4 linked regions of the Homo sapiens genome follow. The protein of the gene in region 4 purifies or fractionates together with the protein of the main gene of each other region. This does not show direct contact. Each region holds a gene or a part of one and is shown on either strand. Other genes may lie near its edges. The genes, in order: LEPR, LRFN1, MAN1A1 and CDCP1.

Region 1 (7,282 bases), on a different chromosome or scaffold from region 4:
TGAATGAACAAGACTTGCGCTTATCTGATATTCAATGCCTCAAATAAGAGTTTCATAAAATTAAAATAGAACGTAATTGGAGGGAATAAAATCAAATAGTAGGAAAGACAGTGAATAGCAAATAATTGAATAAATTATACCTACAATGTGTACTCTGAAGACAAAAAGAAAGTTTTTGTCTTGGAAGTGAAGATGTCAACTTATTCACTGCATTTTCTGGAAGCTACACAGTTGTCCCTCAACATATACCTATTATACTGAGTTGAGAGTTGAGTCCATGATCCCATTTGCAGGAGAAGAATTTGAAATATCTTCATCTTGCAACTAGAAAAGTACTGCTAGCATAGTATCTGTGGATTACTGTAAGATTTAAGAGGCAGGAATTTAAGAACAATTCCAGAGAATAGCTTAAAGTAGAAAAAGTAAGAAATCATATCGTCTGGCTAAAAGTTGTAAGAGAAATAAAGAAAGCACTCTGAAGGCATGGCCGAACTACTGTTAGGCAGGTCTAAAGTAGAGGAACAGAGAAACTAAAAACACACGGCCTTGAGTATAAAGCCTAAGTAATGAGCATGAAATGGAGGTCCCAGACACAGGCCTCTGAAGTAAACTCAGCAACGGTTGGGCAAAACAATAGAAAATAAAACTTACCACAGCCACACGAGCAAGAATAACAGGAAATCCAAAGGCAGAAACAACAATTCCAGTAGTGAAGAAATATGCCAGTTCCCGACAGGCACTACTGGTTGCATCTGAGTCATAGGTGACTCTTTTGGCAATGAAATGGGGGATGGGGGAGATGGCGTGGAAAATCAGGACGAATAAGGGCCAGTAAACGCTGTCAGTTGGACCCAGGCAAAATCCAAAAAGAAAAGTAACAGTTACATTTTAAATGAAAGACATACTACTATTTCAAAATCATTGCTATTTTAAATGTTTAGGTCAAAAAATTAATTAATTGTGAATATTAGAACATAAGATGATTTCTACCAGGGATAGATAAGTAGTGATAATTTTAAAATTACTATGTAGGTAGCTTATATTGTGTTAAGAAGCCACTATATAATATATACCCTAGAAACTTTACTGTTTTCTGTACCACTGAGCCACAATTTCTTTAAAGACAGAATTTTAACTTGGTCATTTCTGCCTTCCCTATAGAACATAGTAGAGTGTCTTGCAAAAGCTAGTTCGGTAAAGATCTTTTGAGTGCACGCATGCTTGAAACCTTTTAAGAGCTTAGAATAAACCCTAAATTCCTTGCCCTAGCCTACAAAGCCTTTATGGTCTGGTATTATCTACTTCTTCCATTCATTTTGTACTCTTTTCCCTTCATTTGCTTAATCTGTAGCCACACCAGCCTTTTTTCTGTCCCTTGAACACTCTTGAGCTCATAGCTGTTATCCTGGGGCCTTTGCGCTAGCTGTGCCCCCTGCTTGCAATGTCCTTCCCCATGATCTTCTCATTGGCTGACTCCTTCATACCATGTGATCTAAACTGACAGATTCCTTTCTAAAAGCAGAACTTTCCCTGGTCATCTATTCTAATGTACCCCAGGTCACCCTCGAACATACCACCCTCTTTGAACTTTCTGCACAACACTTATTCCCATCTGATAGATTAGTCTTGATCAAACGCCATTTATCTCCAGGGCCTAGAATGATGTACTCCATTTATACTTGTTAAATGAATAAAATAATAAATAAATTTTAAGTACGGAAGGCATGAAAATAAATATGCTCACTAGTGAAAAGCTTAGATGTACTTTGATCTTCATTATAAGAGCTCACAATTAATAGTGTAATGCAAAAACAAAACAAAACTGTTTTCCTCCCAAATTTCAACATTTTGCAATTATAAAAAAAAAATTGCCATCTGGTTTCCAACAGTATTTTCTCTATCAGTACTTCAAAAATAATCTTTTTTTCTCCATCAGACATTTCTTATGCTTCATTTCTTAAGAAAAAAAAAGTCTCTGCTCATTTTTATATATACACTACAATAATTCATATCACCACAATACTGTAATCACACAGATACGCCCAGACAGCACCTACAAGCAGGAGTTGGGATGAAGCCACACTAATGAAAGCCTCCCATTCCAGCCACAGATCTAGGCAACCAAAAGGCAAGAAGGGAATGTGTCCTTCAAGAGGACTCAGGATGGAAACAGTGGATTTGGACCCCTGATTTTAAACTAGAGGGATGATAGTATGTTTCAAGAATCACCAAACAATATTGTGGGAAGTAGCCCTTAGACATTCTCTACTTCAAAGCCCTTCTTTCAACAGTGAGAAAGGAGACACAGAGAGGGGAAGGGGTTTGGAATAGATATGTCACCTTACATATCCACAGCCAAGAACTCTTAATTTTTCCTGGAATACAGTGACAGTTTTGTGAAAAACAATCTGACTCTATGTTTTCATTCATAGTAAGCCACCGATATCCAACTAAGAGAAATATTAATGTACAAGAAACCTTGTTTATATATAAAATGTAAATATTAAATATATACAATTCAATAAATACATAGGCCAGGGGTGGGCCAACTTTTTCTATAAAGGGCCAAAGAGTAAATAACGAGGATCTGCAAGCCATAAAGACTATCTCAACTACTCAACTCTGCCAAAGATAATTGGCAGAGCAATGCAAAAGCAGCCAAAGATAATTCATAAACAAATGAGCATGGCTGTATTTCAATAAAACCTTTATTACAAAAACAGGTAGCAGGTTATATGTGGCAGTTTGCTGACTTCCAATATAGATGATAATCCTGGTTCACTATCAAGATACAGCTTTGGGAGGCCAAGGCAGGAGGATGACTTGAGGCCAGGAGTTCAAGACCAGCCTGAGCAACACAGAGAGACTCGGTCTCTACAAAAACTTCTAAAAAAAATCAGCTGGGTGTTGTGGCATCTCTAAAAAACAAAAAATTAAAATAAAGATAGAAAACAAACTTATTTGTAGTAGCAGTAATGAGTCATTTTCTTACCTTACAAAGACAGTGTATCACAGAGAATTAAAACTCCTAGATTTACAGTTGGTTGTGGAATAGTGGAAAAACGTTTGGTCAAGGGCGTCAGAACATGAGCTCCATTTCCATGTCTGCCATTTTAATTTTTTTTCTACTTTTTTATTTAAGAGACAAAGTCTCACTCTGTCGCCCAGGCTGGACTGCAGTGGTGTGATCACAGCTCACTGCAGCCTCCAACCCCTGGGCTCAACCAATCTTCCCACCTCAGCCTCCCAACCCTGCTACAGGCACCATGCCTGGCTTATTTTAGTTTTTTGTAGAATGGGGTCTCACTTTGTTGCCCAGACTGGTCTCAAACTCCTGGCTTCAAGCAATCCTCCTACCGTTGCCTCCCAAAGTGCTGGGATTATAGGCATGAGCCACCACGGCCGGGCTCTGTCACTTACTGCTGTTCAATCTGGGTAAGTCTTTAACTACCCTGGGCTTTGGTTTCCCAGCGAGAAATGAGGATAATAATACCGTATTACATTCCAAAAGCTAGAATAAAGTAATTGCTGTGAAGGCTCTAAACAAATATAAGTGACCGCTTATATCTGGATCCCTCTTGGGTTTAAACAATTTCTGTAATAGTTGGCCAGGACTGCGGTGATGGATTTGAATTCATCACTGTCATAATAACTCACTTCAATAGGTCTTAACCACATCATCATCATCTTTTTTTTTTTTTTGGAGACAAAGTCTTGCTCTGTCGCCAGGCTAGAGTGCAGTGGCACGATCTTGGCTCACTACAACCTCCACCTCCTGTGTTCAAGCAATTCTCCTGCCTCAGCCTCCTAAGTAGCTGGGAATACAGGCGTGTGCCACCACGCCCAGCTAATTTTTTGTATTTTTAGTAGAGATGGGGTTTCACCATGTTGCCTAGGATGGTCTCGATCTCTTGACCTCGTGATCTGCCCGCCTCAGCCTCCCAAAGTGCTGGGATTACAGGCGTGAGCCATGGTGCCTGGCCTAATCACATCATCTTCTATCTAGTTGTTCAAGCCAATCACCTGGGAGACATCTAAGAACTCTCCCTCCTTGTTGAATCCTGACATCGATGAACAAAACCTGTTGGTTGGTTTGGTTTCCTAACTCACTCTCCTTTTCTTTCCATTCCTACTGCCCCAGCCCTCAATTTTGCTTGATTTATGATAGTAGTCCCCTACTATTCTCCCTGACTGCAGTCTCAGCTCTTTCCTATCTAGTCTCACGTTATGGCAAGAATGACATTTTAACATAACCCCCTCCTCCAAACCCATTCTCAAGATATTTTCCCAGGTTCTATTGTCTGATGTATAAAATGGAACCTCCTCTACACGGCAGGCATATAGAGCCCTAAGTGCTGACTTTTACACTCTTGACTAACCCTTCTTTTGCCACTCCACTACAATTTATGCTGTACCATAATGTACCATGTGTGGTTTCCTGAAAAGGCTATATACACTTTCATGTCTCCGGGCCTTAGCATTCAGCTTTCCTGGTGCCTAAAGTGCTTTTTCCCTAGAGATCTGTATGGCCTGCTTGCTGATTTTCTTGACATTTCTTCTCACTTTTTACCTCCTCTGAGAGGCCCTCCCTGACCACTGTCTTCCCAGCTTCTGTGCTCTTCATCTTTTGTACCATTTCTACCTCTGACAGTATGCATACTTTTGTTGTTTACTGTCCGTCTCCCCCACTGAAACACAAACTCTGAGAGAGCAGGACCTTTGTTTTCTTATGTCTTAATCCCTAGTTCCCATAACAGTAGCTGGCACATGGGAAGCATTCAACCAACAATGGTTGAATGAAAAAATGTGTAGAATGTTCCCTCTGCCTGGAATGTCCTCCCCTGACTCATCACCCTGAAAAACTCTTATTCATCCACCTAGTCTTGGCTCAGATACAACCTCTGCCATGCAGCCTTCCCTGACTGTCCCACTGAAACTCAGGTGCACTTTATCCGAGCTCCAGCGTACTGTGCTGGCATCTCCACTGCAGCTGCCAGATTACTGACTAGACCGTTTGCCTGTCTCTCACTCACAACTAGAACTTTACCTCCTCTTTGAGGACAGGACTCTCTCTTCATTTGTGTGTCCCCAGCTAGTCCAGAGTAGGTGTTAAACAAATGCTTATGGAATGAATACATCAATTTTTAACAGAGCCCTCTGCAAAAGTACACCTGACCCACAAAGGGACTGTGTTCATAAACTGGGCTCCACTAACTCACTGGTTAGAACTTGGTGCTAAATTGACCGAACTCTCTAACACCCATACTAATAGTGACAAAGACACAGAAAGAGGAATAGTTCTTTTTGAAATGATAACTTACCCATAATCCTCTAAGGCACATCCCAGCATAAGAAAAGTCAGTCCAATAGCCCCACTGAAGGATAATGCCACGAGAGCTGTGAAAAATAAAGCCAAAAGTTAAAGTTCCCACAGTAGAGGTTGTCAGGCACTAGAGGGTTTGGGGAAATGGGGAGTGACTTCTAATAGGTCCAGAGTTTCTTTGGCGGATGAGTAAATTTTCTGGAATTAGATAGTAGTGATGGCTGCATAACCTTCTGAATATACTAAAAACCATGAAATCTTACACTTTAAGAATGTTAATTTTATGGTATGTGAATCATTTATCAATAAAAACATTTACTAAAATAAAAAAGAAAGAAAAAAAGGTCCCAAATTCAAGCAAATGTAGCAATTTACTCATTTTATTGAGGTTACATTTGACCCGTTACAGACTGCATTATGTGTGTCCCTTTCAAATTCACATGTTGAAACCTTCCCGGCTCCATCCCTCTCACCGTGAGATGCTATCAGGAGGTGGACCTTTGGGAGATAATTAGGTTCAGATGAGGTCATGAGGGTGGGGTCTCCACGATGGGATGAGTGCCCTTATAAGAAGAGAGAAAGTAGAGCACACACTCTCTCTGTGTTTCTCTCCCTCTGTTCTCCAATGTGAGAGCAGAAAGCAGGCCTGCAAACCAGGAAGCTGGCTCTCACCAGACACCAGATCTGACTGCACCACAATTTTGGACTTCCCAGTCTTCAGAACTGTGGAAACTAAATGTTTGTTGTTTAAGCCACCCAGTCTAAAATATATTTCTTATAGTAGCCCAAACTGATTAAGACAATGACCCATGTCTGCCACCTTGAAATCATAAAGTATACAAAGGTCTCAAGTAATTCCAGTACCTAACCCCTATCCAATGGATGAATTCCCTCTGTATTTGTCACCAGAGGGCAGCCAGTTGGTCCACATAACTCCAGTGAAGGAAAACTCACTACCTCCCAAGGCAAGTCATTTAATTCCAACAGCTTCTAAATGTTGAAAGCCCTCCTTCTTTAAATTATATCCAGAACTGCCTCCCTGTAATATATACCTTTGATCATTTTGCCTCCCCAAACCACAGTACTGCAAGTATTTGAAGATTGTTTTCATGTCTTTGTAGGAAACAATTCCCAACTAGTGTGCACTGAATAAAATATGTATTCCCTGTATCTATTGGACACTAGTCTCTGCGGGAGTAGGAACGTATTTGCCCTTGTTGTGCTGCTGAGTGAGAAACAGAGTATCAAGGTTGTTACAAAATCTTGAGCTCTGAGTCACAAACATGAGTCAAATCTTAACTCTGCCACCATCTGGTCTTATGACTTTGGGTAGAAGCTAATCCTCTGAACCTGATTTCTCACCTGTAAAATGGAAATAATGGTGCCACCTTATTGAGCTTATGGGAATTAAATGAGATAATCTATGTAAAGTGCTTGGCAAAAGGAGGTAGCCAAATAAATGCTGACTGACTCAGGTATCTACTCATTTTAGCAATGTTCTTTGATAAAGGTAGAAATCAAAAGCATAGGAGACTATCTTATCCAAATTTTCTTCTGAAAAAAGTCCATAATACTCATAATTAGTATTAAACTAATTAATTAAGCCAATGAACATTTTTGATTGCTTCCTTTTACTTGAGAGAAGATTTAGAGAGACTCTTTAATAGGAAGGTGCCAAAGTGCTTTTTAAAAAACATCTGAAAGTATACACATGTTAAGGGACAAAGAAACACTGTCAATTTTAACATATCTTTTTACATTTCCACTCTTTAATGGAAAATGCCCATGTGTGGATGGAAAGCAAATACCACATACTATTTCATTCAGATGATCTTTTCCCAGCAGGCTTTGCTCCTCTCCTCTGTGCCTGACCATCGGCAGTACCCCCTCCTCCATGAGGCCTGTCAAAGCTAGGTACTGCAGACCTCTTCCTTCTGTTCTGATACCAGTTTCTCAACG
Region 2 (7,282 bases), on a different chromosome or scaffold from region 4:
GCCCCTTCCTCTTCGTGGGACCATGCAGAACAAGCTCCACCCCCTCTGACAGGCCACATCCCCACCTCCGAAGGCCTGCTTATCTCTCCGATGCTTCCGCTTCCCCTCCAGCAGAGCCACCTTCTGGCCCTGAAGCTCCACCTCTGTCATCCCACCTCCAGGAGGTTCTCCCACTACCAAGAGCCACCCTCCCACCAAAAGACTTCCAATCAGGGCCCCGCCCCTTCATAAAGGTCCACCCACTTCTCCAACTCCACTCTACCCACCCCTGACTGCCATTTCAAAGACCACTGCCACCCACCCCAGCCACCCTCGGCTGCCCTGGCTTTAAGCCTTCCTCCTCCTCTCTTCATCTCTCCTCTCCAGAGCCCTGGATTCCACTTGCTCCTTCCCCTAAATAGCCAGTTGCTAGGGGCTTCCCCCACCCCTTTTCAAGGACAGAGGCTGGCTCCTTAAGAAAGCTTCAGCCCAAGTGTCTCTAATTGGCTGCAGAATTAAAGCAAGCAGCTAAGCAGGCTTCTGGTTGGCTGCCACCTCCGCCCATGACAGCGTGAGGAAGTTAACCCCTGCGGCACCATAGCATAGGAATCTGCAATGGGGGTTGGAGAACTGGAACTGGGGCCCTACAGGGAAGAGAAGAGTCCCAGGGTCTGTTGCCCAGCTGGGGACAGGGGGCCATCAACATCTGCATCCATGCAGGGTCTGGGGGCTTGTGAACCTCCCCCACCCCACCATGTGGTGGCCATGGCTCAGAGCAAAGGAAAGAGAGGGACAGAGAAGTGGAGAGTCACAGAAGCTCAGAATTATTTACAGAAATATATTATCCATCTCCCTTCCAAGCAGTGGGTGCCCAACAAATGTGTGTCAGTGTATAAAGGACAGCTTTGCTACTTTCTGTGTGACCTTGGGCAAGTGACATCCCCCACTGAACCTCAGTTTTTCTGTCTTTGAAATGGAGAGGGGGTCATCACGCCTTCATAGCGGAGCTGGGAAGATCAAGCTTGGAAGTTCGTTGTGAAGGTTTGTGTTTTGTTCATTTGTTTGTCCTCATGTTTGTAAGGCTGGGCCAGGATCTAACCTATCTCAGTAGGCCCAGGGCCCAACACAAGATGGGCACACAGTAGGCATCTACTCAGTGTTTGGGACCAGAATCAAAAAGAGAGGGAAATGAGGAAGACAGAGACAAAAGAAAAGGGAGGCTTTTTTTTTTTTTTTTTTTTTTTCCAGAGGGAGTCTCGCTCTGTCACCCAATGGCGCAATCTCCGCTCACTGCAACCTCCGCCTCCCAGGTTCAAGCGATTCTCCTGCCTCAGCCTCCTGAGTAGCTGGGATTACAGGCACGTGCCACCACATCTGCCTAATTTTTGTATTTTCCGTAGAGACAGGGTTTCACCATGTTGGCCAGGCTGGTCTTGAACTCCTGACCTCAAGTGATCCGCCCGCCTCAGCCTCCCAAAATGCTGGGATTATAGGCATGAGCCATCGCGCCCGGCCAAGAGGCATTTTTTTCATTCAACCAACACTGGGAAAGCACCTACTATGTGCCACACCTATGGCCAAGAAAACACTGGAAAGGCAGAGATGGAGGCCAAGAGGCAGGTTTCTCGGTGAAGATCTGACAGCCAGGAGCTGGGGCTCTCCACAGGTAGGGAAACAGCTCCAGCCCCGCTGGCATCTCCAGGTGAAGCCAAGCAGATGACTGAAGCATTTAACTGGTGCTCTACAATGTGCATGAGGGAGGCAGAGCTAGAAGGAGAGACATCCATGTGGCAAACTACCATTTATCAAGTGCCTACTGTGTGACAATTCTGTGGCAGAGAGCCATACTAAAAAACTACCAAGATGGGCCAGGTGCAGCGGCTCACACCTGTAATCCCAGCACTTTGGGAGGCCAAGGCAGGAGGATCACTTCAGCCCAGGAGTTCAAGACCTGTCTGGGCAATATAGCAAGACCTCATCTCTACTAAAAATTTTTTTAAATTAGCCCAGTGTGGTGGTGCACACCTATAGTCCCAGCTACTCTCAGGAGGTAGGAGGATTGCTTGGAGCCCAAAAGTTTGAGGCTGCAGTGAGCTATGATCATACCACTGCACTCCAGCCTGGGGTGACAGAGCAAGACCCTGCCAAAAAAAAAAAAGAAAAAGAAAAAAAAAAACTACTGAGATGGAGAGACATGGCAAGGCCAGGACTGCAACTCATAGTGTACTATGGACCACGACCTACTGGGCTATAAGCTCCCTGAGGACAGGGTCTGGGTGGTTTCCCTGTGTCCCCAGCACCCAGCTCAGGAGTTTGCACAAAGCAGGGGCTCTGTGCCTAACGAGGGCAGAGAAGGTAGAGACAGACAGAGAGGTGAAAGGAGAAATAAGGAGGCGATGGGAGAAAATAACTCTTTTTTTAAAATGTCTGTTGACACCGTATGGTCTGTCCCCACCAGGGCAATGGCTTCAAACCCAAGTGAGGGTGGAAATAACATATTTTTCTCATACGTTTTGTTTTCTGTTTCTGTAATGTACCCAATGTGTTGGTTCAGTAGTACTGGTATATAATTTATAAATATAAATGTCGCTGTAGGCTAGGCACGGTGGCTCACACCTGTAATCCCAGCAATTTAGGAGGCCAAGGCAGGCGGATCACTTGAGGTCAGGAGTTCAAGACCAGCCTGCCCAACATGGTAAAATCCTGTCTCTACTAAAAATACAAAACTTAGCTGGGTGTGTTGGTGGGTATCTGTAATCCCAGCTACTTGGGAGGCTGAGGGACGAGATTCGCTTGAACCCGGGAGGCGGAGGGTTTCAGTGAGCTGAGTTCGTGCCACTGCACTCCAGCCTGGGCAATAGAGTAAGGCTCAGTCTCAAAACAAACAAATAAATAAATGTCACTGTAAATGTGTGTGTGTGTTTCATGCTCCAAAATGTTTAACTGAAGAGGTGCACAATCAGATTGTTGTGGGGAGCAGTGATATCGACCATGAGCCCCATGAGGGCAGGGTTCATGCTGAGCTCAGTCACTGTTAGGACTCCAGTGCCCAGCCCTGGTCGGGTTCATGTAGGTGCTCAGCGAATATTTTCTATAAGCACGAAAAACAGAGACAGTGAGAAATAGAGAGAGGAGACAGGGCAAAGGAGGGCGGGAACAGCTCTCACAGCCATCTAGAACCCTGGCTGAGCAAGAAGGCCAAGGGAATGGGCAGGTGGGAGGGAGGGTCCCCCTGGGCTTGGGAGGAGGCCCTGGGACTGCAGCACCCGCACCCACCTGTAGACGAGGGAGTCATCAACGGAACTGTTGTACTGAACCTGGTACATGCGTATTCCGGGCACAGGCCTCTGGGCTGGCCAGCGGATGAGCACGGAGTTCGAGGTGAGCTCGGCTGCCACGAGCCGACGCTCAGCCGCAGAATCGTTGGCACCTGGTCTGCCCGGCGTGGCGATGTCAGAGGAGCCGGGCTCGGTGAGAGGCGGCGGGGCAGCCGGCGGGGGTGCCATCAGAGGCAGAGGTACCACGCACACCTCCACGGGCGCCGTCGCTTCCCCAGCAGCATTGGAGGCGATACAAGTGAAGGTGCCACTGTCCCTCAAGGTGGTGATGGTCACATCCAGCGTCCCGTCCCCCCGGACCCGGGTCCGGCTGGAGTTCCCCAGCAGCCGCCCATCAGGTGCCACCCAGTGCACCACCGGCTCGGGGTCACCCACCGCTCGGCAGCGCAGGCTCACCGCCTGGCCTTCCACCACCAGGGCCCGGCCCCCCGCCTGCCGTGTGATCAGCGGGGGCTCACACAGGAACTCCTCCTCGGGGATGGACCAGAAGTAGCGGTCGGTGAGGTGTTCGGGCGTGGCGCAGGTCTCTAAGTCGTCCTCGCGGGTCAGCCGCCGCAGCCAGAGCAGCTCGCAGTTGCAGTGCAGGGGGTTGCCGCCGAAGCTGACGGTCAGCGGGGTGGGCGGCTTGGGCCCGGTGCCCTGCGACCTCAGGAAGAGCCCGTCGGGCGGGAGTTTATGCAGGCGGTTGGAGGTCATGTCCAGACGGACCAGCTTGTGAAGCTGCACGAAGGTCCCCTCCGCGATGTGGTCGATGAGGTTGTGGTCCAGCGTGAGGGTGTTTAGGTTCACCATCTGGCCCACCGCCTCCCACGGCAGGGCCTCCAGGTTGTTGTAGGACAGATCCAGGTCCTCCACGGTGGACAGGAAGGCGTCAAAGGCCGCCGACTCCACCCGGCGGATCTGGTTGTTTCCAAGGATCAGGTGGCGGAGGTTGCCCAGGCCGCGGAGCTGGTCGCCGCGCACCTCCGCCAGGCGGTTGCTGTCCAGGTGCAGGGCCCGGAGGGCACGCAGGTCGGCGAAGGCGCCAGCTGCCACCTGGCCGATGGTGTTCCGGGAGAGAGTGAGGTGCACCAGGCTGGTCATGTTGGCGAAGTCTCGGCGGCGCACGGCGGCGATGAAGTTGTCGGTGAGCCGCAGCTCCACCACGCGCCGGTCGATGGCGGGCGGCACAAAGAGCAAGCCGGTCTTGGCGCACAGCATTGTCAGTGTGGGCGCCACGTTCTGGCAGATGCAGCGGCCGGGGCAGGGCTGGCCACGAGATGCCCCCGCCCAGAGCAGCAGCAGAAAGGGCAGGGCAGCGGGCGGCGGCGAGAGGAGGGCCGAGGAGAAGGGTCCTGGAGCCATGGTGCAGTGGGAAGGCAGGAGGGGTGGGAGGTGAGACCTGCCGGGGAAGGAGCCGGTTACCCAGGCGTGGGACTTGGCCGCCATGGGATGTCCTGCTACGAGTCAGGCCTGGATCCCTCCCCTACCGCCTACAGCTGGGTTCCATAGGATGGTGAGAGGAAGCCACTATCAGCTATTAACAACAGATTACAACACTTCCATGCTGGGCACAGTGGCTCACGCCTGTAATCCCAGCACTTTGGGAGGCCGAGGCAGGCGGATCACCTGAGGTCAGGAGTTCAAGACCAGCCTGGCCAACATGGTGAAACCCCGTCTCTACTAAAAATACAAAAATTAGCTGGGCATGGTGGTGGGCGCCTGTAATCCCAGCTACTTGGGAGGCTGAAGCACGAGAATCGCTTGAACCAGGGAGGTGGAGGTTGCAGTGAGCCGAGATCACACCATTGCAATCCAGTCTGGGCGACAGAGCAAGACTCCATCTTAAAACATAAATAAAAATAAAAATATCTCTATACTGGTTGATAGAATACCCCTGTCCCTACTTGCGTGTCCCACCCTCACCTCTGCCCCTCCTGTAGTAGCTCCCAAACCTCTCATGATCTCCCAACCAGAGGGGTGACACCTGGCCCAACCTGGGCCCTCCAGTACCCACTAAATTGTCTAAAAAATCACTGTTAACTATGGTTTAAGGCCCTGGCTATCCAAGCCATACTCCCTAGCTCCAAATCCCAGCTCTGATACTTACTAGCTGTGTGACCTCCAGCAAGTATCTGAACCTCTCTGATTCTCGGTTTCTTCATCTGTAAAAGGGAGATAGAAACAGGCCTTACTTCTGTGAGGATTAAATGTATTGATGAACATAGCATACTTAGAATAGTGCCAGGCATATAAAATGTGCTTATTACATGTTAGCAATCATCATCATGATCATCAAGTGCTTAATATGTACCAGGCATAGAACAGTGCCCTATTATTGAGAGTAAGTACTTTGAAATCAAACAGACTCAGGTTCAAATCCTGATTCCCCTTTTGCTAGCTCTGTGACCCCCAAGCCAATGATTTCCCCTAGCTAGGCTGTAATTTCTTAATCTGTAAATTGGGATGATAATTGTACCATCTTCATTCATGTACCACCGACCATGCCTGGCATACAGTAAGTACTCAATAAATGTTAAGGGTTTCCCCCCTCCCGCCTCTGGCATTGGCAGGGAGAGTGTCAAAGTGGGAGGGACTGAGGAAAACACATCAGAGTCTTCCAGTTCAGCCTCAGGAAGGCCTTCTCTGAGGTCTGGTTTCATCCTGGGCTCAGTTGAGCTCCCAAGCAAGGCAGACTTTCATGCTCACATCTTTGGGTACACACAACACACACACACACACTCACACACTCACACACTCACGCTATGTCTCTGCTCCAGGCAAAACCTTCCGGCAGGGATTCCCCCTGCGGCGGCTGCAGCCCACGACATGTCAGTTCCCATCACAACACAGGGTGGGCGGGGGGTGAAGAGGAAAGGATGGGAAGGGGGCGTCCCTAAAACTGTTTTCACCCCACCCTGCCCTGTACCCTAGCCCCTGCTGGCCTACCTCCCAGGAATCTGTGTTTGGGGCTACGGCCTTAGGTGGCTTTGATCTTCCTGCCAGTGGGGAGGGGGCCTGGGACAGAGACCAGGAAAGTCAGAGACAGAGGTGAAGAGAGACAAGGAGAGACCAGGGGGAGGGAGAAGTGGACTGGCAAAGAGAGAGAGACAGATTGGGAGAGAAACAGAGAGACAAAAAGATGAGTCTGAAAGGAAGGTGAACAGACAGAAAACTGAGAGTGAAGAATGAGACACAGAAAAGAGAGAGACACAGAAAAAAGACACAGAGATGGAGAGAAAAATAGAGACAGTATTAGAGAGAAAAAGACAGAGGAGGAAAGAGACAGAGAGTAAGAGAGACAATGACCGGGCTGAAGGCGGAAAAAGAGGCCGGATCGGGGTGTCCTACCATCTCTGAGTTCACCCCAAATCTGTCCTTCACTCCCTCTAGATCACTACTCTACAATGTACTGGAAACCCTGGCCTAGAAAGGGGGACTCCAGAATTAGGAGCCTGAGTCTGCCCCTGCTTGGCTGTGGGGTCTTCAGGGCTCAGAATCCCAGTCTATGAAACAGAAGTCCAGAGCCTCGCCTCCGACAGCTGGGGTAGGACTCAAATGGAGGGAATAATAATAGCAATGGAAATAGCTAACATTTATGGAGAGTGGTGCAGCACTGCAGGACAGAATCCGCCCTACTGCCTGGGTTCAGACCTCACCTCCCCACTGTGTGACTTTAATCAAGTGACTTCCCCTTTCTGTGCCTCGGTGTGCTCATCTGTCAAATGGGAATAATAATGGCACCCACCTCATAAGGTTGCTATGAGGATTTAATGAGATAATATTTTATGACATGCTTAGAATAGTTCCTGACAAAGTAAACACTATATACATGTGAGCTGCTGCTATTATCATTATTATTATTACTATTATTATTACTAATTTATTATTTTCTCCAGCTTTCTCAGCCACCAGGAGGTCAGGCTATCGGGAGATCTTCCCACACCCATGCACACGCACATACAAAATGGGCAAACATATTCACT
Region 3 (7,282 bases), on a different chromosome or scaffold from region 4:
GTATATATAGTGGGCCAATGTAAGCAAACACAAGGTATCACACCAAATCTATTCTTGAGAAAACCATTCCTATTTCAAACTTAATGTTTAAAAGAATCATATATTGATTTTGATTTACTCCAGGACTGTGGGGGATGGGGAGTGGCCATTTCTTTATATTTCTTCTAAGTTGTGATCTCTGTGTTGACTATAACCATACTAAATATGCTATATTCTTATTTGGCCTAAAATTTATTAGATTTTCCTTGATTGATCACGAATAAGTAAAATTGGCAAAGCTTCTTTCAGAGTCAAATCCTGCTTTCACAAACTGAAAGGAAATAATTTACTACATCTGAGATAGAGCCTTTTTCAAATCTGAGAAATCTGAACCAAATAGAATGCTTTATTTTCCAAAGAAAAAAATCAAGATGAAATACAAACAAGTGAACTAAAAGCCATATGAAATACCCTCTCTTTAGACAGACCCAATTTCTTCATATATTCAGTTAAACCCAAAAGCTAATCCATTAAGTTGTACTATTTTCTTCAGATAAATGTAATTCAGTGATAGCAGAGCTCTGCAAAATTTGAAAGCTCACCTCTCTGTGTAGTGGGGAATGGAAGAAATTAACTAGTATATAATCCAGAAATGACACAGGGCATTTAAAGTAAAATTAAAGGACACATTTACAAAATAGAAAACACTAATATAATTAACCAACAAAAATATACTGCAGTTCCGATGAAATGAGGTCAACATGACATGATCCTTTTGGAATGACTTTCTAATTTGAATTACAATGTGAGTGAAGTATTTTAGAAGACATTCTATCAAATAATGATAGACCTGCATAAGGAGGCTGTCACAGAAGATCTGTCTCTGGTGGACAGACAAACCAGATTAACATGAAATTGTAAAGGAAAAAGCTTTTTTATACTTATTATTATGGCTTTTTGCAACATGGCAAAACATTACAGCTTAAAGCAGACATCATCTCCTCTTAGAGGAGGAAAAAGTTTTGCAGTCAAATCAAATTATAATTAAGAGGTCATCGCTATACAATTCTATTCAGTTTAACAAAAACGATATTACACCTTCATGAAATCCAGAGATAATAGGTTACTTAAAAACATAAACAAAAAACTGGTGGATACACTGGCTGAATTAATAAAGGATATGATAAGGAATTTAGGTCCACCTATACCTATGATAATAAACATAAAAGACTGCAAAACAATTTAAGAACTTAATCACAGACCTACTAATCAAAGTTCATCATGTGCCTGATTACCAGAAAAGGAATTATTAAGGTATACAGTGAAGGGAATGGAGCAGAATAAAATATAAAATGTCTTTTTATTCCTCTCTGATTTCAACTTCCTTTTTATCTTTAGGGAGGATAGGGAGAAGATGTGCCTCGCTATTGAAGATCCAATGCTCCAGTGGAAGAAGATCGTCGTCAGAAAATATTAGGTACAAATATCTGGTGAGAGAAACATAAGTATATGAGGCCCAAGACACTAGGCAGGCAGTGAAACCACAAACACACAGCAAAAACCACATCAATGTCTGCATTCATCTTACCAAGAAACATGGACAAGAGTCAAATATATCAAAACCCTGAGGGGTTATACTCATTAACATGGGGTAAAGCAGCTACTCAGTGCTTTGGTGTTAGCAGTACCAAGTCACTGAACCTAGTTATTGAGAATATACCTGCAATTATAGCCATGCCTGATATTCTGAATCAGGCATACTTGATATTACTTGAATGTGTTCATGATAAAGACATCTACAAAGATCTGTTCAGGTACCTTAGCCACATGGTTTTAGAATAATTTTCACCTACTTCAATGTCTCTGCCAGGAAGAAACTCTGCTGCACATCATCATAACTCTCATGAAGAAGGTAAACATCCCTTAGGCCTGAATAGCCTCCATTCACTCTGCAATGGTTTTCCAAGGCCTAAATTATAGAGGAGGAAAAAAAAAAGTCACATTTCAGTAAACTGATTGTCACTAATTTTTATTATTAGATTGTCAAGTTCAGATAAAACATTTTTTTTTTTTGAGACAGGGCCTCACTCTGTTGCCTGGGCGGAGTACAGTGGCACCATCATGGGTCACTGCAGCTTCTACCTCTTGGGCTCAGGTGATTCTCCTGCCTCAGCCTCCCAAGTAGCTGGGACCACAGGCATTCGCCACCATGCCTGGCTAATTTTTTGTATTTTTTGTAGAGATAGGGTTTTGCCATGTTGCCCATGGTTGTCTCAAACTCCTGGGCTCAAGCGATCTGCTTGCCTCGGCCTCCCAAAGAGTTGGGATTACAGCCATGAGCCACTGTGCCCAGTCAAAATTTATTTTTTACAAATTGGATTCAAATTAAATGAAAGTTTGTTATAGAGTTTTAGGTAAAAAAAAATTAAAACCATAAACTAAATGTAAATTAAAAATGAAGTCATAGAACATATGGACCACATATCTTACCTAATTTGAAACACTTCTGCCTTTAGTTTTGGAAAAATTTTTCACTGATTTTTACCAATTCCCCCTATGGTCTGGAGCAGGGTTTAGCAAAGTATGAACTATAGGCTAAATCCAGTCCACTGTTTATTTTTGTAAATAAACTTTTATTAAACCACAGCCATGTTGTTTAAATATTGTCTGTGGCTGTTTTTGTACTACAATGACAGAGCTAAGTAGATGCAAAAGAGACTAGCTGGCTGTCCCCCAAGCCTGATATTGTCTGGCCCTTAACAGAAAGAGTTTGCTGACCCCTAGTTTGGAGAGACTGCTAATGTCAACTGGGATCATAAACCACTGGTTGAGAAACCGTACTGGAACAAAATCAGCTGCTTCTATAATCAGAGTATCTGAGTTTCTGAAAATTGATTGTAGGGTACTCATCAGTGATATTGGTAACAGAGCTAAAAGAAGAAAATGAAAGACAGTGAGAGACATGTGGCTGGGATCTATTCCTAAAATACATGTTTTTTTTTTTTTTCAGTCTAGTATGGAAGAAGATGGGATGACTCCACTGACAACTCTCTAGAGAGAAATGATCCTACATTTCTGTAGTTGTCTGAATTTAATGAATATTTGGAAAACAGATGGGTTGGGCAGTGTGAGGATGAACATTTAGGTAACAACCTAAACCAACCTGCCTTCCACTTTGTTGGTTACCACTAAGATGGCTGCTGTTTGTGTTTTCTTTTTCCCTTTCAGAGCCCACTTTCTTTCTTTTGTTTGTTTCTATTTTTCTTTAACCTTTTTCCAGCTTTACCGATGTATGACAAATACAAATAGTATATACTGGAAGGTGTACAGTGTGATGTTTTGATATACACTACTTCTGTGGATATACACCATCTTCTGTGGTGGATATACATCATCTTCTGATGTGGATACACATCATCTTCTGTGGATATACACCAAGAATTAGGATTGCTGGATCATATGGTAGCTCTATTTTTAATTTTTTGAGAAACCTCCATACTGTTTTCCATAATGGCTATATCAATTTTCATTGCCACCAACAGTGTACAAAGGTTCCCTTTATTCTGCATCCTCACTAAGACTGATTACCTCTTGAATTTTTGATAATAGCCATTTAAAAAGGTATGAGGTGATATCTCACTGTGGTTCTAATCTGCATTTCCCTGATGATTTGTGATGTTGAGCATCTTTTCACTACTGGCCATCTGTACGTCTTCTTTGGAAAAATGTCTCTTCAGGTCCTTTGCCTATTTTGAAATCAGGTTGTTTTTCTGCTACTGAATTGTAAGTTCCTTATATATTTTGGATATTAACCCCTTATCAGATATATGGTTTGCACACATTTTTGTTGTGTTTTTAGTTGATTGTTTCCTTTGCTGTAAGGAAACTTTTTAGTTTGATGTAGTTTCATGTGTTTATGTTTGCTTTTGTTGCCTGTGTTTTTGGGTCGAATCCAAAAAATCATTGCCAAGCTCAATGTCAAGGAGCTTTTCCCCTGTTGTTTTCTCCTAGGAGTTTTATGGTTTCAGGTCTTACATTTAAGTCTTTAATTCATTTTGAGTTGTTTTTTTTTTTGTGCTGTTTATATTTTGAAATTACATTTGTTGCTCTGCTAGTTACCAGGCATATTCATCTCTAGGAAAGTTATTTTCTGCCATCACATCCTACTAATCCTATTAATTATATGGTCAAATAAAAATTTCCATCGTACAAAAATTGCCATCTGCAATCTGGTTCTCATTTATTGACTGTAGACAAAAATAATAAAGTTTAAGACTAAAACCCTAATATATTTTATAGTGAAATAAAGAAAATGTAAACAAGATATACTTACTCTTAGTTTCTCATGTCATTTTTCACTTACGTTTCAGTTTTCCCCTGTGGATCATAATTCTGTCCCTCTTTTTTTTTTACATATATAATTGTACCCCATTTTTCTCCCATTTAATCCAACTACCAAGAAGATGGAAAGCATAGACTTTGCCTTATCAGTTGAGAAAAACCTTCTCTGGCTAGAAAGGATTTTGGAGGAAAATAAGGCTCTAAGAATGTAGAGCCCAGAAAAGAGGCGAGGGAAAGTAAGTACCAGCCACGGATTCTCATGAGCAGAGATGTTGCACTGAGAGCTCAGCTCCCATCTGCAGATACTGATAATGAGGTTATTGATTTTTCACATCAGGGCTGGAGGACAGAAGGGAGAGAGCAGAGAGACTATGAGGAGAAGCATTTAATTACCTGGTTAAAGAAATTCTGGCCAGCAGGCCACATGAATAAAGAAAATAAAGAAAATGCCTCATGATTTCATACTTTTAAAAAGCCCCGAAGAAAATAAGACCGATCAACTTAAAAACAGATGCTTCGATTAAATTCTAAGTTCCAGACAGTGCGTCAAATGGAGGATGAGCATGAAGAAAGAAACTTTCAAGTCCTATTATTTTTTCTTTCCTCCTTTTTTTTTGACAAAGAGTCAAATACCAGATATGTAGAATAAGCCAAAAATTATTGGTTAAAAAAAGGAAAAAAATCAGAATTTAGAAAAAATGGGCAAGGTTTTTATGGGAAACCCTATTTCCGGATATTTCTTTAAACAGATTTTAATCCCAAAACCTTTTCTTAGTTGTTCCCTTGAGGTTTTTTGGTAATGAGCTAATGAGAGGGCCAGCCATGATAAACAGCCACTCCTCCTCTCCATGGAAACTGCTCTAAGCTCCTTCTTTTGTTAGAGGAGTTGCTTTTGGGGTGGACAATGCCTAATCACCTTTCTTTCTAGTTCACCCTCTCATTCTTGTTCCCCACAAGTCCTCTTGGGGTAAGCTATAGTATTCAAGAACACAGCCAAAAATTTTGAGTAGTGGGCCAACTTCCAGCTTGAGACCCCCTTATCAGTGGCCCCAGAGGTTCCATGTCCCAGGCAGCATCTTCCTTCTCAACATGGGGTTGTACGTGAGAATAAAACAAAATGAAGAAATGCTTAGACAATAACAAGGGCTTCAGAGGTTTAGAGAGGCCCAGTCACTTTGCTTTTGAAGTTTTTGGTAAATTAAAAAAAAAAAATTTTTTTTTAAAGGAAAAGCACCCAAGAACTCCCCCTCACCCCTTACGCAAAAGTCTAGATTTTAAGACTTTAGGAACGTGAAGCTGGGGACAAATAGCTTTCCTGGGCCCTTACAACAGCCCTGATTCTATCAGCATCTCAACAGTGGAAGCTGTCATGTGTTTGTATGACTAAGTCTAACCAGATCATCATTGTACTATAATCTGTTCTTGGGATTCTCAGCCTCTAGGCATGGGGACCACCTTGGTTTTGAGTAAATGCTTCTATTATTAGTGATCCTATGTGACTGGGATGTGCAAATAGCAGAGAACAGGATATGAGAATGTTTATAATGATTGGAGCTCTAAACAAAGGATGAAGGGTAGGTAAGAAAATAGCAAGCATCATGAGTTAAATCCTAAGTCAGAGGACAGAAGAGTATTCTCTTGCCTACCAGATATATAAATGGCTGATCCGTGGAGTAAGGCTGTCTGCTTGAGTGTCGTCTGAACTCAAGGATAGAACACAGAGAATCAGGCACCTTGAACAAATCAAAGAGGGTTTGGAAACAGGATGAAGCCTGAGGAGGCAGGAGTAGGAAGGAGGAAAAGAAGTCACTTCCTGAGAGTCGAAATGTCTGAGTGGAAAAGGTTAGGTTTAGAAGAGCAAAGAAAATGTCTGTGCAAAAAAACAAAACCAAAAAACCTGAAACTACCAAAAAAAAACCCCCTAAAGCCAAAAAAAAATCCCAAATCCCTAGGTAAGGCTTTACCCTTTACCATAGATCAGCTGAGACATTATATAATCTATGTGAATATATACATACAATATTCTGATAAAGCTCATGCTGTAAGTTATCAGATGTTTAAATGGAAGGAATTTGTCAGTTTCTCATGATTTTTTTTTTTAAAATTTTCAAGAGAGTCTCGCTCTGTTGCTCAGGCTGGCGTGCAGCGGTGTGATCTTAGCTCAAAATAACCTTGAACTCCTGGGCTCAAGTGATCCTCCCTCTTCAGCCTCTTGAGTAGCTAGGGACTATAGGAGTGTGCCAGCATGACGGGCTAATTTTTAAATTTTGTAAAGACAGGGTGATGACTTGTTGCCCAGGCTGATCTCAAACTCCTATCCTTGAGCCATCCTCCCACCTCGGCCTCCCAACATGCTGGGATTACAGGCTTGAGCCACCACGCCTGGCTTTCATGACATTTTTGAGAAAAAGCAAAAGAAATTATCAGTTAAATATTATTTCTGTCAGGCAGACTCACAAGTGCTTGAACACCTGTGATTAATGGAGTGCTGTTAACCCACAAAAGAACTCTCTAGTGTTGTACTGCTGGATTATATACCTTTTCACATCTTATTTGACATTATTATTAGAAATTTAATTAAGACACAGAAAGCAGGTTTCTCAAGTGTATCAGTGAAAGAAGGCTGGGAAGGGAGTGCTTTGTTAGAAGATAGGAAGACGGCTTACAAATACTTTACAAACTGAAAGTATGGGTGAAAAAGCACAGTGCAAAGGAGATGTGACTCAACGGTAGCAAATGGAGAAGCTAACACTGACCATAATTTCAATATAAGCCAGTTTTTCTTTATTTTTTTGGAGTTGGAGTCTTGCTCTGTCCCTCAGGTTCGAGTGCAGTGGCGTGATCTCGGCTCATTGCAAGCTCCGCCTCCTGGGTTCATGCCATTCTCCTGCCTCAGCCTCCTGAGTAGCTGGGACTACAGGCGCCCGCCACCACGCCTGGTTAATTTTTTTTTGTACTTTTA
Region 4 (8,114 bases):
TTTTCTGTGAGACCCTTTTCTTGCCTCTGGAAGCTACAGAATCTTCTTTTTTGTTGTTTGTTTGTTTCCATCACCCAGGCTGGAGTACAGTAGTGTAATCTCGGCTCACTGCAACCTCCACCTCCAGAGTTCAAGTGATTCTCGTGTCTAAGCCTCAGGAATAGTTGGGATTATAGGCGTGAGCCACCACGCCTGGCCTAGAATCTTCTTTTCGTTATTGGTTTCTGGTATTTCACCATGATGTGCCTGGACGTGAGTCTGCCTATATTATCCATTGTGCAGGGCACTCCATGACTCTTTTAATCTGGAAACTCATGTCATTCAGGCCTGGAGAATTTCTTCACTTATATTATTGATGATGTCGTCTCCTCTGTTTCATCTGCTCTCTCTTTTTAGGAAACTTATTTTTCAGATGTTGGATTTTCTGAACTGGACCTCAAATTTTCTTTACTTTTCCCTCCTACTTTTTATCTCTTTGTCTTTTTGCTTTACTTTCTGGGAGCACTTCTAACTCTTCTATTTATTTATTATTATTTTTTTTATCTACAATCACTTTTTTTCATTTCCAATAATTCTTTTGTGGTTCTCTGAATCTTTTTGTTTGTTTTGTTCTGTTTTTGAGATGGAGTTTCGCTCTTGTTGCCCAGGCTGGAGTGCAGTGGTGCAATCCTGGCTCACTGCAACCTCTGCCTACTGGGTTCTAGTGGTTCTCCTGCCTCAGCCTCCTGAGTAGCTGGGATTACAGGCACACACCACCACGCCTGGCTAATTTTTTGTATTTTTAGTAGAGACAGGGTTTCTCCATGTTGGTCAGGTCGGTCTCAAACTCCCAACCTTAGGTGATCCACCCGCCTCAGCCTCCCAAAGTGCTGGGATTACAGGTGTGAGCCACCACACCCGGCCTTGTTTTGTTTTTTATAACATGCTGTTCCTGCTTCACAGAGAGAATGTTGTCTGACACCAAATTATAGTTGCCTACATCACTCTAAGAGAGTTAGTAATTTTTTTGTTTTGCTTCCTTTTATTTTCTTCTCTTTGTATAGTCTTTCAGGTTGCTTCTTTCTTTCTTTCTTTCTTTCTTTCTTTCTTTCTTTTTTCTCGGTTTGGTTACTTGGTTGGCTTTGACTCTAATATGTTAGAAGCTCTCCTCAGATATCCTGAAATCCTGATTGCTCATGTTTAAAAGTGAGATATTGGCCAGGCACAGTGGCTCACGCCTGTAATCCCAGCACTATGGGAGGTTGAGGTGGGTGGATCACATGAGGTCAGGAGTTCGAGACCAGCCTGGCCAACATGGTGAAACCTCATCTCTACTAAAAATACAAAACTTAGCCAGGCGTGGTGGTGTGCAACTGTAGTCCCAGCTACTTGGGAGGCTGAGGCAGGAGAATCGCTTGAACCCGGGAGGCAGAGGTTGCAGTGAGCCGAGATCGCGCCATTGCACTCCAGCCTGGGTGACAGAGCGAGACTCCATCTCAAAAAAAATAAATAAATAAAAATTAAAATTAAAATGAGATATTAAAAAGCTAAGTTGGTGGGGCTTAATTGAAAGCCTCATGGTAGGAAGCTGGTTGGCCTGTTTATGAGGGTCTAATGTCCATATGTTTGGGTCTTTCCTCCTGTGCTGGTCAGACTCCCCAGAAGAAGACTTTTTCCATCCCCAATATGGATAACAAAGCCTTTTTGTCTCATCCTTGGATGCAGGTTGGGGCCAGACAGCTGGGGATCTCAGCATTCAGAATGCATATCTTCCCTTTATTTACCTACTTTTACAATGTTTCCTATGCTTTCAGCTATGCCTGGCATCCCTCAGCCCACATCCCTAGGTTTTAATCTCTCCAGAAGACAACACTAAAGTTGTTAAGCTTACCAACCCTCTAACTTGTCAAGATCTAAAGATCGATAATATAGGCAGACTCACATCAAGGCACATTATGGTGAAATTTCAGAAACCAATGAACAAAAAGAAGATTCTACAGCTTTAGAGGCAAGAAAAGGGTCTCAAAGAAAATAATAAAAATGAGAATGGTTTTGGATTTCTCAAGAACAACACTGGAAGCTGGACGAGGGACTGTTGCCCAGGCAAGGGTAATGATGGATGGGTTCTGGGATCTAACCACAGTACTTCTCAAACAGCTTTCTTCTAGCCTTTCTTGTTTAACTCCTCTTTCACCCTCCAGTTGCAGAATACCTTGTGCTGCCATTTCCTGAGGATCTTTTTTGAGGATTTCTGTGTTAATCGTGTTATTTCTGAGTTTTCCCCACTACTGGCTTAGGGTTCTGCCATCTCCAGGCTCCTAAGGCAGCTACCACTAGTCCAGCTGCTGTCTAGCTTCCAGGGTGATTTTGCTGTTGTCTTCTCTCTGTTCTTCCCACCTTTGTGGGCTTATGTAATTTTTTTTAATCCCTGTTTTACAGCCTTTGCAGGGTTTCAGAAGAGGTCAAAATTAGATGGGACAGTCTGTTTTAAGACTCACCTTCCTTTTTTTTTTTTTTCTTTTTTTAGAGAGAGAACTTTACTCTGTCGCCCAGGCTGGAGTGGAATGGTGCAATCTTAGCTCACTGCAACCTCCACCTCCCAGGTTCAAGCAATTCTCCTGTCTCAGCCTCCTGGGTAGCTGGGACTACAGGCGCCCGCCACCACAGCCGGCTAATTTTTGTGTTTTTAGTAGAGATGAGGTTTTGCCATGTTGGCCAGGCTGGTCTCCAACTCCTGACCTCAAGTTATCCACCCACCTTGTCCTCCCAAAGTGCTGGGATTACAGGCATGAGCTACTGCACCCAGCCGAAAATTTACCTTTCAATCTCTCATTTCTCTCTAGCACTAGATTATAGTTACCTACGTTGCTTTCCAGTTCAGAAATAACCTTTTAAAATTTACTCCTTCCATTCAGCCATGTTTGTAAAGACAAAACATGTCCATTCTTGGCAATGCTTTGTTCACACTCCACTTGGAGGACCAGGACAGTATGTCAGGACATCTTTACTTCAACTATGTAGTTGGGTTGTCACGCAAAGGATGCTGAAGTGCCTCCCTATTTTCTTCTTTCTCGTTGCTGCTACTTTCTGGAACCACCACCAATGCTTCATATTTGGGAATTAGTGACTCTCATTCCATTTTCAGAAAGCTGGTGTCAACTATCCCAAGAAAGACAGTTAAGCAAACTTTGGAGAGACGAAATAGTAAGGAAATAACTTGTTCCTTAGGCTTAACTTGTCAAGCAATATTTCTGATATTTTGCATTCAATACACTGCCATTCTAGTACTGTTGTGGGTATTACTGTATGTGGGAAACAATGGTGTCATGGATGTTAGGAAAAGATGCTGGGATATATATGCCTGCTTAGAATCAGGAGAAAAGACAAATCTCCTTTCACCCTCCTGGTCAGCATAAATATTTTTAAAGATTGTTTAGATTTTTGTCAAGATTTCTTTCTCTTGATGAATTTGTCCTCGATTCAGTGGGGAGAACCAAGAGCCTCTCTTCGTTTCTCATCCTCTCCCTTCCCTCTAGTTCTCAGTTTTCCCATTTTTCTGCACAAGGACAGAAGTGGACTAGAAGATTACATCTAAGGTCCCGTTTAGCTCACGATACAGGCCCTCCCAGAGGTGGGGGTGTGGGCAGGGTCATGTTCCAAGTTCTGCCTCCCTCGATGGACTGTGGGCTCCCAGAGGGCAGAGCTAGCTCTATTCTCATGATTAAGGACATCGAGAAGGAAGGGGTGACGCTCCTAGGAGATGATTTCCCACCCCTGTCCACAAGGAGGATTGGGGCAGCCTGGAGAGGCTCAGTGCCCGCAAGAATTAAGCAGAAGTTGGGACTGGACTGTAAACTGATGCTGTCGCACATGCTTTGGTTCCTGTCCCAAGCCTCCCAGGTTGCTCCGGGTGACTCTGGCCCAGCTTCTGGCTATCCATGAACACAAGTAGTCCCAGGGAGTCATTCTGGCAGAACCCAGGTCTGCTAGCTAAGAACTCCTGAACCATCCGCAATCTCTGCCTGTGGCCTGGACTTGGTGTATGGCCGGCAGGGTGGAAGGAGAACCCACAGGGCCTCTGAAGACAGGCAGGTGGCACACCTGCGGCTGGGAGGATTTGGAAAAGGAGTCCAGCGCCATTCATTTTTCATTCATTTTCCAGCCCAACGTTTGACCTGAATGCTTCACGCTCACACTGCACACACTACTCCATTTATAATACAACTCGAGAAGGGCACATACTACTCCATCCACAGCTCAGTGAAGGGATGCATACTACTCTACTCACAATTCAACGAAGTGGTGCATCTGCCTCTAATTTACTAGCTACCCTGGGGACCTTGGACACGTTGCGTGTCTGGAAATACTGCAGGTGATGTGTGTGGAGTAGGCTGCAGGCTCACCGTCCTGCAAATACTAGCTGTACCACCACCGGCTTTAAAGTCCAACAGACCTCTGGCCCAAGTCAAGTAGCAGAGGATCCAGGGCTTGGGTGGCCCACAAATAGGATTCTTCTCCAAAACGAGGCGCATAATGGCCTTTGTCTCCTCGACAGAAAAGGGAAGGTAGACTGGCTTCCTCTATGGGCGACCTTCGCGACTCTGGAGAAAAAGACCTCATCATTCTCAGACTTGGGAAGGAAGACTAAGCCCGGAAAGGTGGGGACAAGTCCGCTCCAACGCCGCAATGGGGAGTAGTAGGGACCCAGCAACCCGGTGCCGGGAGCCCTGCACCCTGGGAGGGAGAGGCGGTCGCTGAGGCAGGAAGAGGAGGAGGAGAGAGAGGAGGGACGCACCGGGTCAGCTCGCGATCCTGCTGCGCAGGGCGGGGCTCGGGCCGGTCCGCCCGCGCGCAGGTGAGTGAGCCAGGGCGGAGCGCAGCTGCGCCGGGCTTGGGCGCCTGGGGCCGCCGCTCCCCACCGTCGTTTTCCCCACCGAGGCCGAGGCGTCCCGGAGTCATGGCCGGCCTGAACTGCGGGGTCTCTATCGCACTGCTAGGGGTTCTGCTGCTGGGTGCGGCGCGCCTGCCGCGCGGGGCAGGTGAGTGCCGGGCTTTGGAGGCGGATGGCGTGGAGTGGTGAGCTAGCCAGCCAGCGGACGCCCGGCGGAGATGCGGCCGAGGGACGCAGGGTGCGGAGGGTGCGGAGGGTGCGGAGAGAGGGCGGGGACGGCGTAGTCAAAATGCGCGGGTGGCTCCGGGACCCCCGGACTGTTCGGTTCCTGCGCGCGCCGCGTCGGGCGCGTGGGCCTTGCCCTCCTGGAGTCAACCTTGCCCTCGGCACGTGAGAGTGTCCCCGATCGGGGAGCCTCCCGGTCCGGGAGGATGAGCCCGGTGCTGGCCGAGAAGGCGGGAAAAGGAGCTCCCGGTAGCCGATCCCAGGCGACATGTCCAAGGTGGCGCGCCGTGCGCCCCAGGGTCTTTGCCGGGATTCTTGAAAGCACCCAGGCAGGGTGTGGGAAGAGATCTTTCCTCTCCAGGCTCGCCCTCTACCTCCTCGCCTGGTCCAGAGAGAAGGTGCAAAAAAAGTGCTTTCACGTCCGCATTTCCCACTAGATCCCCTTTTTCCCGTCCGCACGCTGCATTCCCCCTCTCCTAAAGTTGAAGAGCGTTGGTGCAAAAATGAAAGCGCCCGGATTTCTTTTAGGGGGTCCCAGAGAAAGCCGCCAGGCATCTGCGCCACCGCAGAGACTGGACATTCCCGCGCCCCTCGCACTTTTTGGCAGTGGACTTTGAGGGCAGGAGGCTGTTGTTCCGGGGATATGTGTGAATTTCGAGTTGTTTCGGTTGGGGGAAGGGACCAACACGTCCCAGTGACCTGTGCCAGCCAGGAAATGCCCTGTGGGCCCTGGATGTATTAGAACGTAGTAAATAACCTGGTTTCTTCATGTAAGAACTTGATGTGAGGCTAGTACAGGTTTCGCGAGATTAGTACAGGTTTTGTGTTTTTTAAATAGAGCTCTCCAGGAAGCCATGTGGGTTTGATTCCCCTTGCTGCATCTAGGGTGGATTTGTGTTTGGCAGGTGTAAATTAGATAAAGGAATAAAAGGACGCAAGTGAGGTTGAATTTGGGCGTCCCGGTGACTGCCGTCTTTACAAATACAAGACAGGAGCTTCTAAAATATCAATATAAGCTCCAGGAATACTTCCTGGTTCATTCTCCAACATCAGGTGACATATTGCTGCATAGTAGATAGAAAATTTAAAACTTCATTTAAACCATGGCATGGATTTATAAATATATATATAAATTATATATATTAAAGTAGAGACAGGGTTTCACTGTGTTGCCCAGGCTGGTCTCGAGCTCCTGAGCTCAAGTGATCCTCCCACCTGGGCCTCCCAAAGTGCTGGGATTACAGATGTGAGCCACTGTGCCTGGCTGATGAATATTTACTATAATTTCTTAGGACTGAATTTCCAAGATTCCCTTTGAAGAAAAAGAATTAGTTTAAGAATAAAAAGGAAGTGAAAATATGTGTATATGTGTGCTGAGAAAAATGCGTGCCTACCAGTCTTGGAACAGTATTGAAACTCTGGGAATTATCTGAGATGTTTTTGGCTTTCTGTGACAACAGTGGGGAACTCTTCCAGTCAGAACAGGGTGTTAATCAAGGCATTGCTAATAATGAGAGCCTCTGTTCCTGGTCTCATTTCTCCCTGTGATCTGGGAAGGCTGCCATTTTGGTCCAGTAACTCCAATGGAGTCCCTTCCAGGAAGTCCTTGACTGGCTGAGCCCTGTCTCATGGTTCAATACATAAATACGTAGAAACCTAGGAACTTTCCCTTTCGCTTTCTTAAGTTCCTCCCTATGGTCTCAGGAACTGGCCCTTTGAGGGTACATCAGGCTGAACTGAGAGCTTTTGTGGTTGGAGTAGTTGCCTGTAGTCTTGAGGATCTAAGTGGCAAAGGCCTTTGAGAAATTCCTGGAGACTGTCCTGAAAGGATACAGAAAGCCAGAGCCCTGGCACAGTGGATTTGTTTTATAAATCCATGAAGTCTCTTAACAAAGAAAGACTCAGCAGAGTAAAAATGAATTTGGTGTCACTGCAGAGATGAAAAGTAAAGGAAAGTTTGTGTCTTGGTGTCGTGTGTTTGTGTGACTTTGGTATCCCCACCAACTCCCCCATTTCCAAGAGTGAAACACTGGTTACATTGGGATCATAGCCTTTTGAAAACCTCCATTTGGTTGCTTTCTAAGAACCACTCAGATACCAGAGTCTGGGTCAGTGACCCCAATCTTGCCACCATTGTCTCTTGCCAAAAATGTGAGCAGACAGATCAAATGATATATTCACACTCCCTGGGTGAGTGTGGGTGTTCATTCTGTTTCCGATTCAAATGAGGAGCTACTGGCTGTTGTCTGGAATGTGTAACTGGTAGCGCTGATGAGTCTCCCCCATCTCCTCCCCCACATCCCCACAGATTTGCATGACTTGGAGTCAGACCTGTTAGCCCTAGGGCTCACCTCAGATGCTGCCATTTCATCTATGATGGTTGCACGCCTTGCATGTGCACACACACACTCTTCTGGGTGTTCTCCCTGGCTATCAATATGGGGGAAGGAAGTTAATAATTAAGATGTTTTAAGTAGCATATAGTTATTGTAGAAAAAGTGGCAATAAATATAACCAAAATGGAAAAAAATTATCTATAAGCAAACTGCCTTATTCACTTTGATGCAGTCTTCTTAATGTGTATGTATGCACGCTCATGTGCACAAACCAAAAATGGGATCATCCCATTGTATGGCTTTAACCAGTCCCCAGTTGTTGGACATTTAAGTTGCTTCCAGTTTTTCTTATTAAAAATAGAACACGTCCAACAATAGCCAGCTGCTTGTATCAATTTTAATAGGTCTATTCAGTGAAAAGGCACTTGAAATTACATAGCACAGACTAGAAAATGACATGAAAGGATGAACCATTATCCTCATGTTGCCAAGGTTATAAAATGGTATCAACTGGATTATCCCATTTTGATGTATCTAAGAATGTGTTCTTCAGCTGTGTTGTTCTGCACACTCTTTTTTTAAATTTTTGAGACAGAGTTTCACTCTTATTGCCCAAGCTGGAGTGCAATGGCGCGATCTCGGCTCACTGCAACCTCCGTCTCCCAGGTTCAAGCTATTCTCCT

The links.
Region 1: the proteins of CDCP1 (region 4) and LEPR purify together in Homo sapiens (affinity purification with mass spectrometry; 2 studies listed by BioGRID and IntAct, with this or other methods). This does not show direct contact.
Region 2: the proteins of CDCP1 (region 4) and LRFN1 purify together in Homo sapiens (affinity purification with mass spectrometry; 2 studies listed by BioGRID and IntAct, with this or other methods). This does not show direct contact.
Region 3: the proteins of CDCP1 (region 4) and MAN1A1 purify together in Homo sapiens (affinity purification with mass spectrometry; 2 studies listed by BioGRID and IntAct, with this or other methods). This does not show direct contact.

Annotation. Positions count from the first base shown.
Region 1 is NC_000001.11:65,423,418-65,430,699, reverse strand, and holds part of LEPR (leptin receptor isoform 1 precursor), read right to left. Parts: intron 5,398-7,282; coding exon of another isoform or gene 5,322-5,397; intron 2,919-5,321; coding exon of another isoform or gene 2,897-2,918; exon of another isoform or gene 2,691-2,896; intron 839-2,690; coding exon of another isoform or gene 652-838; intron 1-651. Other genes in the region: LEPROT (leptin receptor gene-related protein), read right to left, coding at 652-838, 5,322-5,397. UniProt on the Homo sapiens protein: Receptor for hormone LEP/leptin. On ligand binding, mediates LEP central and peripheral effects through the activation of different signaling pathways such as JAK2/STAT3 and MAPK cascade/FOS.
Region 2 is NC_000019.10:39,310,676-39,317,957, forward strand, and holds part of LRFN1 (leucine-rich repeat and fibronectin type III domain-containing protein 1 precursor), read right to left. Parts: intron 5,462-7,282; 5' UTR 5,407-5,461; intron 4,699-5,406; 5' UTR 4,662-4,698; coding exon 3,256-4,661; intron 1-3,255. UniProt on the Homo sapiens protein: Promotes neurite outgrowth in hippocampal neurons. Involved in the regulation and maintenance of excitatory synapses. Induces the clustering of excitatory postsynaptic proteins, including DLG4, DLGAP1, GRIA1 and GRIN1.
Region 3 is NC_000006.12:119,178,480-119,185,761, forward strand, and holds part of MAN1A1 (mannosyl-oligosaccharide 1,2-alpha-mannosidase IA), read right to left. Parts: intron 1,949-7,282; coding exon 1,833-1,948; intron 1,467-1,832; coding exon 1,340-1,466; 3' UTR 1-1,339. UniProt on the Homo sapiens protein: Involved in the maturation of Asn-linked oligosaccharides. Progressively trim alpha-1,2-linked mannose residues from Man(9)GlcNAc(2) to produce Man(5)GlcNAc(2).
Region 4 is NC_000003.12:45,143,110-45,151,223, reverse strand, and holds the start of CDCP1 (CUB domain-containing protein 1 isoform 1 precursor), read left to right. Parts: upstream 1-4,845; 5' UTR 4,846-4,936; coding exon 4,937-5,018; intron 5,019-8,114. UniProt on the Homo sapiens protein: May be involved in cell adhesion and cell matrix association. May play a role in the regulation of anchorage versus migration or proliferation versus differentiation via its phosphorylation.